Homo sapiens: one gene and its partners. The protein of the gene in region 3 purifies or fractionates together with the protein of the main gene of each other region. This does not show direct contact. Each region holds a gene or a part of one and is shown on either strand. Other genes may lie near its edges. The genes, in order: COPG2, ALDH18A1 and ANO7.

What was found.
Region 1: the proteins of ANO7 (region 3) and COPG2 purify together in Homo sapiens (affinity purification with mass spectrometry, with the first as the bait; one large-scale study listed by BioGRID). This does not show direct contact.
Region 2: the proteins of ANO7 (region 3) and ALDH18A1 purify together in Homo sapiens (affinity purification with mass spectrometry, with the first as the bait; one large-scale study listed by BioGRID). This does not show direct contact.

The regions. Positions count from the first base shown.
Region 1 is NC_000007.14:130,550,169-130,553,818, reverse strand, and holds part of COPG2 (coatomer subunit gamma-2), read left to right. Parts: intron 1-1,388; coding exon 1,389-1,464; intron 1,465-2,474; coding exon 2,475-2,578; intron 2,579-3,169; coding exon 3,170-3,295; intron 3,296-3,650. UniProt on the Homo sapiens protein: The coatomer is a cytosolic protein complex that binds to dilysine motifs and reversibly associates with Golgi non-clathrin-coated vesicles, which further mediate biosynthetic protein transport from the ER, via the Golgi up to the trans Golgi network.
Region 2 is NC_000010.11:95,605,441-95,608,726, forward strand, and holds the end of ALDH18A1 (delta-1-pyrroline-5-carboxylate synthase), read right to left. Parts: intron 1,504-3,286; coding exon 1,322-1,503; 3' UTR 501-1,321; downstream 1-500. UniProt on the Homo sapiens protein: Bifunctional enzyme that converts glutamate to glutamate 5-semialdehyde, an intermediate in the biosynthesis of proline, ornithine and arginine.
Region 3 is NC_000002.12:241,187,150-241,190,899, reverse strand, and holds the start of ANO7 (anoctamin-7), read right to left. Parts: upstream 2,224-3,750; 5' UTR 2,172-2,223; coding exon of another isoform or gene 2,134-2,171; intron 844-2,133; coding exon of another isoform or gene 837-843; coding exon 729-836; intron 705-728; exon of another isoform or gene 479-704; intron 1-478. UniProt on the Homo sapiens protein: Has calcium-dependent phospholipid scramblase activity; scrambles phosphatidylserine, phosphatidylcholine and galactosylceramide. Does not exhibit calcium-activated chloride channel (CaCC) activity. May play a role in cell-cell interactions.

The DNA of each region.
Region 1 (3,650 bases), on a different chromosome or scaffold from region 3:
TTTCCACAATAGCCTACATGTTTCCATCACTCCTCACTCTTATTTACAGAGCTCCTCTTTCCAGCACCATTCCTTAAAATATTAGTTCTCTGTAAGATTTTGACTTCTCAACATCTACATTCCTCTTGGTGATCATTTTCAGAGCTCTGCTAATAGGCTGTGACATTCCAGTCATGTCTCTTTCCTGAACTTGTTTGTCCAAATAACTTAAAGCACTTCAAACTCAACCTGAAATTCAAACTAACCTCACATTCATCATCCACTCAGTTATCAAGATAGAATCTTGTTCTGCTGCCTTACAGCCCCTATCTGTTCTTTAGCAAAGCGCTTTCAATTGTGTCTCCTTAATATTTCTTCATTCTCTTCTATTTTCTTGGTGCTGATTGAGGCTGTCATCCGTTTCAGATCCCTAGCTATCTGACTGCTTCTAGACTCACATATATCCTGCCTATTCTTTACACTCTGCTAAAAAAAAAAGAAAAGGCGGGGGGGACTTTCAAATGTACAAATTTATCTCATATTTAATATCCTTTAATAATAATGTTGAGATTAAACCATACCCTAATTTTGTTTTATTGCCAGTCTCTCCCTTGTCTCTTCTTGCTCTCCAACATGGGTCCTTTGCTCAGCCTTGCCCAACTGTCCAGTAATACACCACACTTTCTTCTCTGGGCAGGGGCCATTCGAACGTGTTATTTTCTCTGCCTCTAATACTCTTATCCTGCCTTTTTCCTCTGGCTAACAGTACTTGGTCTTCAGATTTTAGCTCAAGTAATATGTATTAACTCTTTGTCTTAGTTTTCCACCACCAATTCGGATTTAGTTCCTTTCTGTGTATTCACATAGCATCCTGGATATATTTCTTCCATGGACTTACCTATGATGTCTTGTAATTGTCTCTCTACATACCTATCTTTCCCACTAGAGTGTAGCTCCTTGAGATCAGGGACATGTCTTTTATCTGTCCCAGTACCTAGCACAATTCCTGACAAAAGTTTGGTGAACAATGAATCTTTGTTGAATGAGAGGAATTTTAATAATAGAATTTCTTTTTATGCTTGGGGCTGGTTGTTTGAGATTAGAGCTTAATGACATCAGTGTGATATATAAGGGGTTGTGGTGGGGTGGAGATATAGCTCCTACAGAAAATCTATATGAATCTTTTTCCTCAATTTTTGGAAGATTTTCCTATTCAGAGCTCTCTTGGGCTTGCAGAATTCTATTTATGCTTAACAGTATCAAAGAAATAAGATCAAGAAACACTCAATAAAACAAGGGAGTTTATCTCCACTGAACATGGGGACACTTTTCTAATTTTTTTTCAAATGGTTATTGGTTAACTCTGAGAAACCAATATTTATGTACCATAATTGTATGCTTCATTATAGCTGCTGTGAGTGCTTTGGCTAAATTTGGGGCTCAGAATGAGAGTCTTCTCCCAAGCATCCTTGTACTCTTACAGAGGTAAGTTAAATAATGTCTTTTCTAAAAAAAAATAAGAATTCTATATGGTTAAACAGTGAAATCCTCATTCTACCATAGGGCGGATGCACTCTAAGCCCTAAGAGTAGAGTTATTGGAGCAAGTCAGGGGCAAATGGCAATTCCTTTCTCTTTTTAGTAATTATGTATACCTCCCAATCAATTTGATGTGCTATTGACTGATCACTTCATGAAAGCCCCTAGCCTTGGTTTACACAATAGCCTACATGTTTCCATCACTCCTCACTCTTATTTATAGAGCTTCTCTTCCCAGCCCCATTCCCTAAAATATTAGTTCTCCATAGGGTTTTATTTGCTAGGTACATGTCACATTTGATTTTGGCTTTCTCTCACATGATTTTGAGAAAGTGACTTAAATACATTTGCCTCAATTTGTACAACAGGGGCTTACTTAAAAAAACTGTTAGGTAATTCACTATGCAGAGTTAAAAATAATAGTTTTTCATTGTCTTCATGACTCTATTTGATGAGGAAAAGACTTGCTTTAGCAAACTGTGATTGCATCTTATAATTGAAGCAGATAAATTACAAGCCAAAGGTTGGCTAGTTTACGTAAAACAAATTGTCATTTGAGCAAAAACAGTGGCTGGATTTTGAATTTATCTTTTCAGTATCCTTGGAGAGTATAATACTCCCATTTCCTAATTACAGAGAAGTCTAAGTCTTCAACAGGGTCATGTAGTTACAGATGGAAGAAAAGACTCCAGACTGCTATTTCATGTTCTTGTGCTCCTCGTTATTTTAATGCCTACTTATGTAGTGCTTGTGATTCACAGTAGCAGTATTTCTTTAGTAATTCAGAGCAGTACCCAAGATTTGTGAAGACTTTAGGAGCCACTGTTGGCTATTGTTGAGCACTTTTTTAAAGGTAGTATCAGATGACGACCTGAGCTGTGTCCTTTAGATTTGGTAGTAGAGCTATTGGAAGTCTTTGGGGTACTGTGACATGACTATTCTGTTTCCCCTGGACAGGTGTATGATGGATACTGATGACGAGGTACGAGACAGAGCTACCTTCTATCTGAATGTGCTGCAGCAGAGGCAGATGGCACTAAATGCCACATATATCTTTAATGGTCAGTGAAAGCCAAGGATGTACACTTTTGTTCCTCAAATGGTGTCTTGGAAGCATATTTTATGATTTGCATATGAGCTAACTTCACTAGGCAAATGCTTGGTTTTTGTCTTTGAGTGCACTTCCATTTCTAGAGAAACCTGTGTTTATAGGATATTTTCTAATTTGGTAATGATAATTCCTATGCAGCAATCTATAAGAATATAGATTGGGCCCTTACATTTTTTAGGAACGTTGCTCACTTATTCCTGGTTCTCCTTGAACTCCCTCTTGGATGGGTTTACATTTTTCCCGTTTTCTTATGCTATCATTGTTCCCATATAGCTAAGTTGCTTTCTTTTCTGGGAGGTACATACATTTTGTTGAAAATGTGTATGCTATGCTCCCATGTTTCCTTGAATGAAATAAGTCAGTTTATAAGTTTATAAGGTAATTTCAAGAATATCCTTTATTTTTATATTTAGGTTATAAAGCTTTTGGTTATATTTTTCTCTTCCTTCAGAAAGCTTAGATAAATATTACAAACCTGGGCCTATTTGGATTCGAGGATTGGCAAGAGGTTATAATGCTGAGATTTCTCTATGTTTCACAGGTTTGACGGTCTCTGTACCAGGGATGGAAAAAGCCTTACACCAGTACACGTTGGAGCCTTCAGAAAAACCGTTTGACATGAAATCAATTCCTCTTGCTATGGCTCCTGTCTTTGAACAGAAAGCAGGTTCACTCTATTCATTTTTCTGTGTATAAGTAGTTTTGCAAAACTAAAAAATATTAGCATATTTTCTCTAATACTCATTTAATTGTCACTCTTTTTTTTTTTTTTTTTTTTTGAGATAGAGTCTCACTCCCGTCGCACAGGCTGGAGCACAGTGGCGCGATCTCTAGTCACTGCAACCTCTACCTCCCGGGTTCAAGCGAGTCTCCTTCCTCAGCCTTCCGAGTAGCTGGGATTACAGGCATGCGCCACCACACCTGGCTAATTTTTCTATTTTTAGTAGAGACTGGATTTCACCATGTTGGCCAGGTTGGTCTTGAACTCCTGACCTCAGGTGATCCACCCACCTCGGCCTCCC
Region 2 (3,286 bases), on a different chromosome or scaffold from region 3:
AAGCGAGTGCTTATTTCTTTAGGAGGCCCCCATGAAATCTTTCAACTGCAGACTGTCAGGCACCAGGGGCCCTAAGGACAGGAGCTAGAGATGGAGGGAGAGTGGGGAGGGTCCGAGCTGTCAAGTGATCCTGAGGCAACAGGACTGGCAGGGAGGAGCTGGGGGGATGCAGTGAACTAAGGATGTCAGCTGGGGCTATGTGCCACCGCGGGAGCTCGCTCAGGTTGGACCCCACCAACTTCAGACCTTCACTGCACTTTTAGTCTTCAAGCTCTTGGGGCTTAATCTCCTGTTTTCCTTTCCTGTCTCTCCGTCTGAGTCCCTCTGTGGGGACTGCCTATGTTGCTTCCACCAACAAACACTGTTGAGGCAGATGTCTTGTCTCCCCAGACAGCTTCCAGAGAAGAGACCATGCCCACAAGCAGGGCACGAGGGTCACAAGAGAGGAAAAGGAAGGGGGTAACAACAATTAAGGGAGAAAACTTCAATCACGCACAGGCTTTTCATAAAAAACTTTATTTCTCAAAAAAGGGGGAAGAATCCAAAGTATTAAAATAATCCTCTAATTTTTGTTTTGGAGGAAAAGGGTAGGACGACAAAATAATTCATACAAAAATTTCAAGCATCACTGCTGTAGATATTCCTCCAGCTCAGTGGGGAACATCCTGAAACTTGCATCTCCTGCTGCAGCTTGGGTTCCAGCTGCATCACGGGGAACACAGCATCTCCTGGATGCAGGAAGCTGCAAGCATCTGGAATGCTTATTAATTTACCCCACAAATAAATACAAAAGGTCAATCTTCCCAGTGGAAATGATTCCATCGATTTTTGTGACTTTCTGATGAGAATGCTAAAAAGAAGAGTTGCCCCTTTTCTAAAATTCCAAATCTTTCCTTTTTGAAGATGACTACATGTGAAAGAAATAAAATGTGAAAAGATTTGTTAAGGATGACTGGCTCTAGTACCAACTAAATGCCAAGGGGGACTGTAAGTCACTGAGGTGACACAAAGCAGCCATGGGTTTTCCTCGCCTTTTTTATGGGGAAAATGCACCTTTCAATCCTAGAAGATAATTGGACTTGGCAAAGTCCCTATCGGTAGCAACTATTTTCTTACTTTAAAAAAAAAGGGTGAGCTGGGAGCCAGACTGTGCACATCAGCCAAGACTGCTATTGCCAAACGGAGCCCAGAAGCATCCAGGTACACTTTCCAACAGGCAGACCCTACCAGGAACTGGGAGACAAGAGCGGGCTCTCTCCTGAGATAAGACAAGTTTAACGTGAAGACCTTTTGGAAAATTCCCGGGTTTTCCTGGCTCTTTTCAGTTGGTGTTTCTCTGAGGAATAGGGAGGTTCTCATGAAGATATTTTAAACTTCCATGCTCTGAGAAATCTGAGACCACGTGGTCCTTCCCTCGCAGCAGCCACTTAGTAGTAAGCAGTCCCTCAAGTCCTACTGGTCCCCGGGCGTGGATTCTCGATGTACTGATTCCCACTTCAGCTCCTGTGAAAAAGCATGAATAAAAGATGTAGCTTTTCCCAGCCTCTGCTTCCTGTCCATGCCCCAGACCCACCCTGCTGCTTTCCCCTCACTTGGTACCCTCTCTTCCTGCTAACTCCTCATCCATCCTCCCCAGAAGAGCTGAGTCACCCTGTTCCCATAAACATGTTCTTCGATTACTACAAATCATGATACACTCCTTCTCGTGAAACAGTGTGTGGACTCTTCTTCTGTATTTTATCCCCAGTGCATTTTGACAATGCTATTAATACAAGTGCTGTCTCTTTTATCAGTTTAGCATCTGAATTGCATACCATATTTTGACATTTGGGCATGTTTTGAGGGGTACGACAATGTTTACCATGATGGTTTCACCTCCTCAAATACTCTTTAAATCTTAGAAAGAAAGGGACATGTTTGTGGTATCCCCTAGAAGTCTTAGCACAAGGGACTCATTAGACAGTTACTGAATACATCAAAGGGTTACTGTTCATTCCCTTTTCTCTTGCTCCCAGCTCAGACCTAGGGAACGTCAGGGGTTTTCCTGGCCCTGGCTTGGTGTTCTGCACTGTATACAGTGGAGGCAGGGTTCCCTCAATCATCACAACTTTACTGAGCATGTACTATGTACTAGGCACTGTGTTGAGCCCTGGGGATAAAGTGGTGAATAATAGATACAAGGCCCTGTTTTTGTGGCGCTGATATTATAGCAGGCGAGGCAGCCAAAGGACAGGTGAGTAAATAGTCTCCTGTGGTGCTCAAGTGCAGTGATGGGTGCTATGACAGAGGCTGTGTGGTGGAGCTGGGGACACGCTGGGTAGGATGGTCAGGGAAAGCCTCCCTAAGGAAGTGCCTTTTGGTTGGGACCTGAACAGTGAGAAGGAGCTGGCTGGAGAAAACCAGACAGAGGTGCTGCAGGCAGAGAGAAGAGCAAGTACGAGACACAGTAGGGGCGGGATGTGCTTGGGGTAGTGGTTGGCAAGGAGAGTGAAACCAGCAGGATTCAAATTCTGGTTCAATAGCATACAGACCACATGACTTTGGACATACTACCTAACTTTATGTCTCATGCCTCAGTTTCTTCATCTGGAAAATGAGAATTCATCTTGTAGAATGAAGTGAGAGCATGCTTGCGACACATTTAGCACAGTGCTGGGAATGTAGTAAATGCTCAGTAAAATCTGTTACTGTCATTAATGCATTTCACAAGGAATTTAACTCAACCAGCTTTCACTCTGAGCTGGTGTTGGAAGGACAATGAAATGATCTTTTGTTCTTCCTTCATCCTGGATTTTCATTTGAATGCTGGGTGCCCCAGCCCTTAAAAATATGTTGCTATTTCTTTTTCAAGTACATGGAGAGTATAAAGATCAATGCAAGTGATGTGATAATTACATCAAAATCCCAACATAATACAAATGGGGAACTAAAAATAAAGAGTATCATGATTAAGAATAACTGAGTTAAATTCCCTTTCATAACCTTTTAACAATTTGGTGAGAATTATTTCTCCAGGCAGATCATCTACTCAAAAAGTTCAGAAGGATTAAAATGTGTGTCTTTCTGTTTTGTTTTGTTATACAGATAGGGCCTCACTCTCTCCCAGGCTGGAGTACAATGGCATCATCTTAGCTCACTGCAGCCTCGAACTCCTGGGCTCAAGGGATCCTCTTGCCTCAGCCTCCTGAGTAACTGGGACTACAGGCTCACGCCACCACACCTGGATAATTTTTTCATCTCTGTAGAGAGGAGGTCTCGCTGCGTTGCCCAGGCTGGTCTCGAACTC
Region 3 (3,750 bases):
CAAGGGTCAGGTTGGCGGGAAGCATGGCCAGGACCAGGGGTGCCTGCCTTGCTGGCCTCCAGGGGCAGAGGGGAGCCGGACTGCTCCCAAAGGGGCCCTGAGGACAGAGTTGGCCATGGCGACCGAGAGTGTCTGGATGCTTGAGGTGAGAGGCCCTGTGCCCTCCCTGGAGGCTCATCTCAGCTGTGCTTGGGGCGGCAGGAAGGGGTCCCGTGTCCACCCGCAGGCTGCTGGGGCAGACGTGTGGCCCAGGAGAACCAGGAAGAGGGCCCTCCACGGCCAGGGCCTCCCGCATGGCCTTGAAGGCCCGGGACCCAGCCTCTCCCCACAGGCTCACAGCGCATCCATGGCCTCCTAGTGACAAGGTGGAGCCCTACAGATGGCCCTGGGTGCTGCTGTGGCCCTGCACTGACTGGGACTGACACCACAGGGAGGGCCCCGCCCTGGTCTTGCCTTTGCCTGGCCAGGCCCCCCTTACCCTCCTGGAGCTCCTGTCTGAACATCAGTGGGTTCTGCTCGGTTCTCCACAGCCAGGCCAGGCCAGGAGAGCGGTGATCTGACTGTGTGTGTTGAGGACTGGGTGGCGAGGGCTTGGGGGTTGCCGGGGGATGCAGGAGAAACACGGTGATGCCCATCCACCCCCAGAGGCTCTGGGCCCAGGGTGGGGGCATAGACCCAGGCAGGGGAGGACCTCTCAAGTCGCACCACAGTCTCCTGGGTGCTGTTACCTCCGAGGCGTGGGCTGTGCTCCCGTAAGAGCCCCTCTTCTCTGCCTCAGGGGGGCTCACATCGATCAGGACGGTGCTGTCCTCTTCCTGGGCCCGTCGCCGCAGCATCCTGCTCCTGCACCCAGCAAGGCCGGGTGGGGATGGGGGTCAGAGAGGGGATGGGTGAGACCCGTTCCTGGGGCCACCACACTGCCTGCAGTGAGCTCACTTTACAGACTCGACTCGGAGTAGAATGGGGCTGGGCTGGCTCGGCAGACTCTCCTGGCCATGAGCACATGGAGAACCCCCTAGCCAGCCACGAGCTCCAGGAAGAAACCAGTGCCGGGGCGGGAGCGTCTGGCAGGCCTGGCACAGCAGGCGTCTGTCTGTCCATCCAGTGAGTGCCCGTGTCCCCCAGCCCTGAATGCCGTCCACTCTGCCTGGGTACTCAGTGGAGCCTGAGAAGGCCCAGAAAGGTGGGCCTGGAGTACAGACACCTCTCCCTCTCTTATCCGTAGGGTGGAGCCATGTGAGCCAGGGACAGGAAACCCCTCAAGTCGCCTGCCTTCGCTCATGGCCTGAGGACCCAGTGCCAGGACCCATAGGCCCTGAGCTCCCCAGCAAGGCGGGCCTGATGGAGCCCGGCCTCACAACTCTTGGGGGTCCCAGCTTCCTCCCGCACCTTCGCCCCGGGGGTCTCTCTCTGTGGGAGGACAGGTGCCGTGGCTCCTAGTCTTGGGCTGGCAAAACGGGGCCAGGAGCACGACATCTGTGGCCCTGGAAGGAGAGGGTTCGAGCTGGGGCTGGCATTTGGAGCTGCGACGATGACCGGAGGGTGTGACCATGGAGGCGCCGCAGGAGGTCGGAGGGGCAGCCTTCTAGTTCTACCCTTCACTTCACATTAGCGGAGGCCCAGAGGGACAGAGACTGAGCCTGGGCCGCCTGCACCTGCCTAACCCTGAAGCCCGAGCCAGGTCTCAGTGTTAGGACTCGGCCCCGGCCCCAGGCTGGGAGCCTCACTACGGACTGTGGGGTGTTCCTGGAGGAAAGTCCCCGAGGAGTTTCGGCCACCCAGCAGCCCCTCATGCCCCCATCCTTCTGTGGTGGGCAGGCGGGCCCCTCCTCAGAGCTCTCTGCAGAAAGAATGGGGATGCCCCCCACCCCAACGAAGGGACCTGCTCCATGGGGGAGCCCCTGGGCAGGCAGGAAGCCAACCCCAGCTGGGTGTACCCCGTCCAGAGCCGCACTGAGTGTGTGTCCCTCCTCGTGCCCCAAGGGGCTTTGGGGACCAGGGCGGGCCCTGGCACTGCCTCCCCACAGGCCAGGGTGTGTGAAAGTCCCGGTGGGCTGGGGTGCCGCCCTGCCTCCCTAGAGTCCAACGCTCCACCTTCTCCCTGTGGCCCACACGTCTAGGCTGGGTCCCCACCTGGCACAGTGGCTTCCGGAAGAGGTCTCGGAGGTCATGGCCCACCTCTCAGCGTGAGCCTGGTCTCGGCAGTAGAGTCCCGTCCTCACTGCGGGACAGAGGGTGGGGAGGGGTGGCCCTTGGAGCCCCGCCCAGGCAGTGGCAGCCATTCGCATGCCCTCACCTTGCCTGCAAGTGGGCCAGGAAGCAGGCAGGGGAGGTGCCCAGCACAGCTGGCCAGGGCAAGGCTTCCCGGCTCCTGGAGCAGGATCTATCTTTGTTTAAATAGGGGGTGTGGGGCTCAGAGCTGCAGACAGAGGCAGCCCACTTGGCTGGGCTTTCACACACCCGCATGCAAATGCTGCCGTCCTCCTGGGAACCTTATTTGCTTAGAGATTTCAGGGCTGGCATCAGCTGTCATAGTTGCTGCCTTGGAGGGTCTCGAGGAGGTGGGATTCCACAGGAACAGCCACAAGTGCCACCTCTGCTGGAAGCCTTGCCAGGCAGACCTCGTAAGCTCTGTTTATGTGGGGGGAAACTGAGGCTCCTTGAGGTTACGTAGCATGTGCTGAGTGGTGGGCCAGGGTTTCACCCGGGGGCTGGGGAGATTGGGAGACCCAGATCACACTGCTGGCTCTGCTAATGCCTGAGGGGTGACCTCAGGCACATCCCATGCTCAGGGCCCCATCTGCAAAAGGACAGGAGGGGTCCTAGCCTTCCTCCCATCCTTTCCGCCCTCCTCCTCGTCCTCATTCTCCTCCTAGCCCTCCTCTTTCTCCTCCTAGCCCTCCTCCCCCTCCTCCTTTCTCCCCCTCCTCCTATCCTTTCTCCCCACCTTCCCTCTCCTCCTTCTCCTCCTATTGTTTCTCCCCCCTACTCCTCCCTCTCCTTCTCCTCCTATCCGTTCTCCCCTCTCCCTCTCCTCCTATCATTTCTCCCCCCAACTCCTCCTCCTCCTCCTCTTTCTCCCCACTCCCCCTCCTCCTATCGTTTCTCCCCCTCCCCCCCACTTCTCCCTCTCCTCTTCCTTCTCCTCCTTTCTCCCCACTCCCCTCCTCCTGTTTCTCCCCCTCCCCCCACTTCTCCCTCTCCTCCTCCTTCTCCTCCTATCCTTTCTCCCCGCCCCTCCTCTTCCCCTCTCCCTCCCCCTCCCCCTTTCCTCCTTGGTGCCTGGCAGTGTCTGAGAACCTACCACCCGTGCTCCTCGCCCTCCATGCACAACTGCACTGGGGAGCCCCAAGCTCAGCTTGCTGTTCCAGGTGCCCCCTTCTGCCTGTTGAAATCCCTCCAGGCGGACCCTCATCCTGGCTGCAGCTTTCCCTTATACCTATGCCCCTCTGTGCTTGGCACCTCCCAAGGGGCCCTGTTCTTGGACCTGTGTTGTGCCTCGGAACAGCGGGAAGGCCCTGCAGGCCGGGTTCCCTGTCAGCACCAGCAGAGCCTGGGCGGCAGGACCTTGGGGCCCTGGGCCTCAGGGCATCTGCATGAGAGGTCTCTGCTTGGCCAAGCTCAGCCTGCAGGCGCCTGAGGTGGATCCCTGGACGAGGGCTGGACTGGGGAAGTGCTCCAGAAACCAGGAAAGGAGTCGGGAGGCAGGAGGGGAGGGAGGATGAGCGGGGCACCATCTCCCCAAGACCT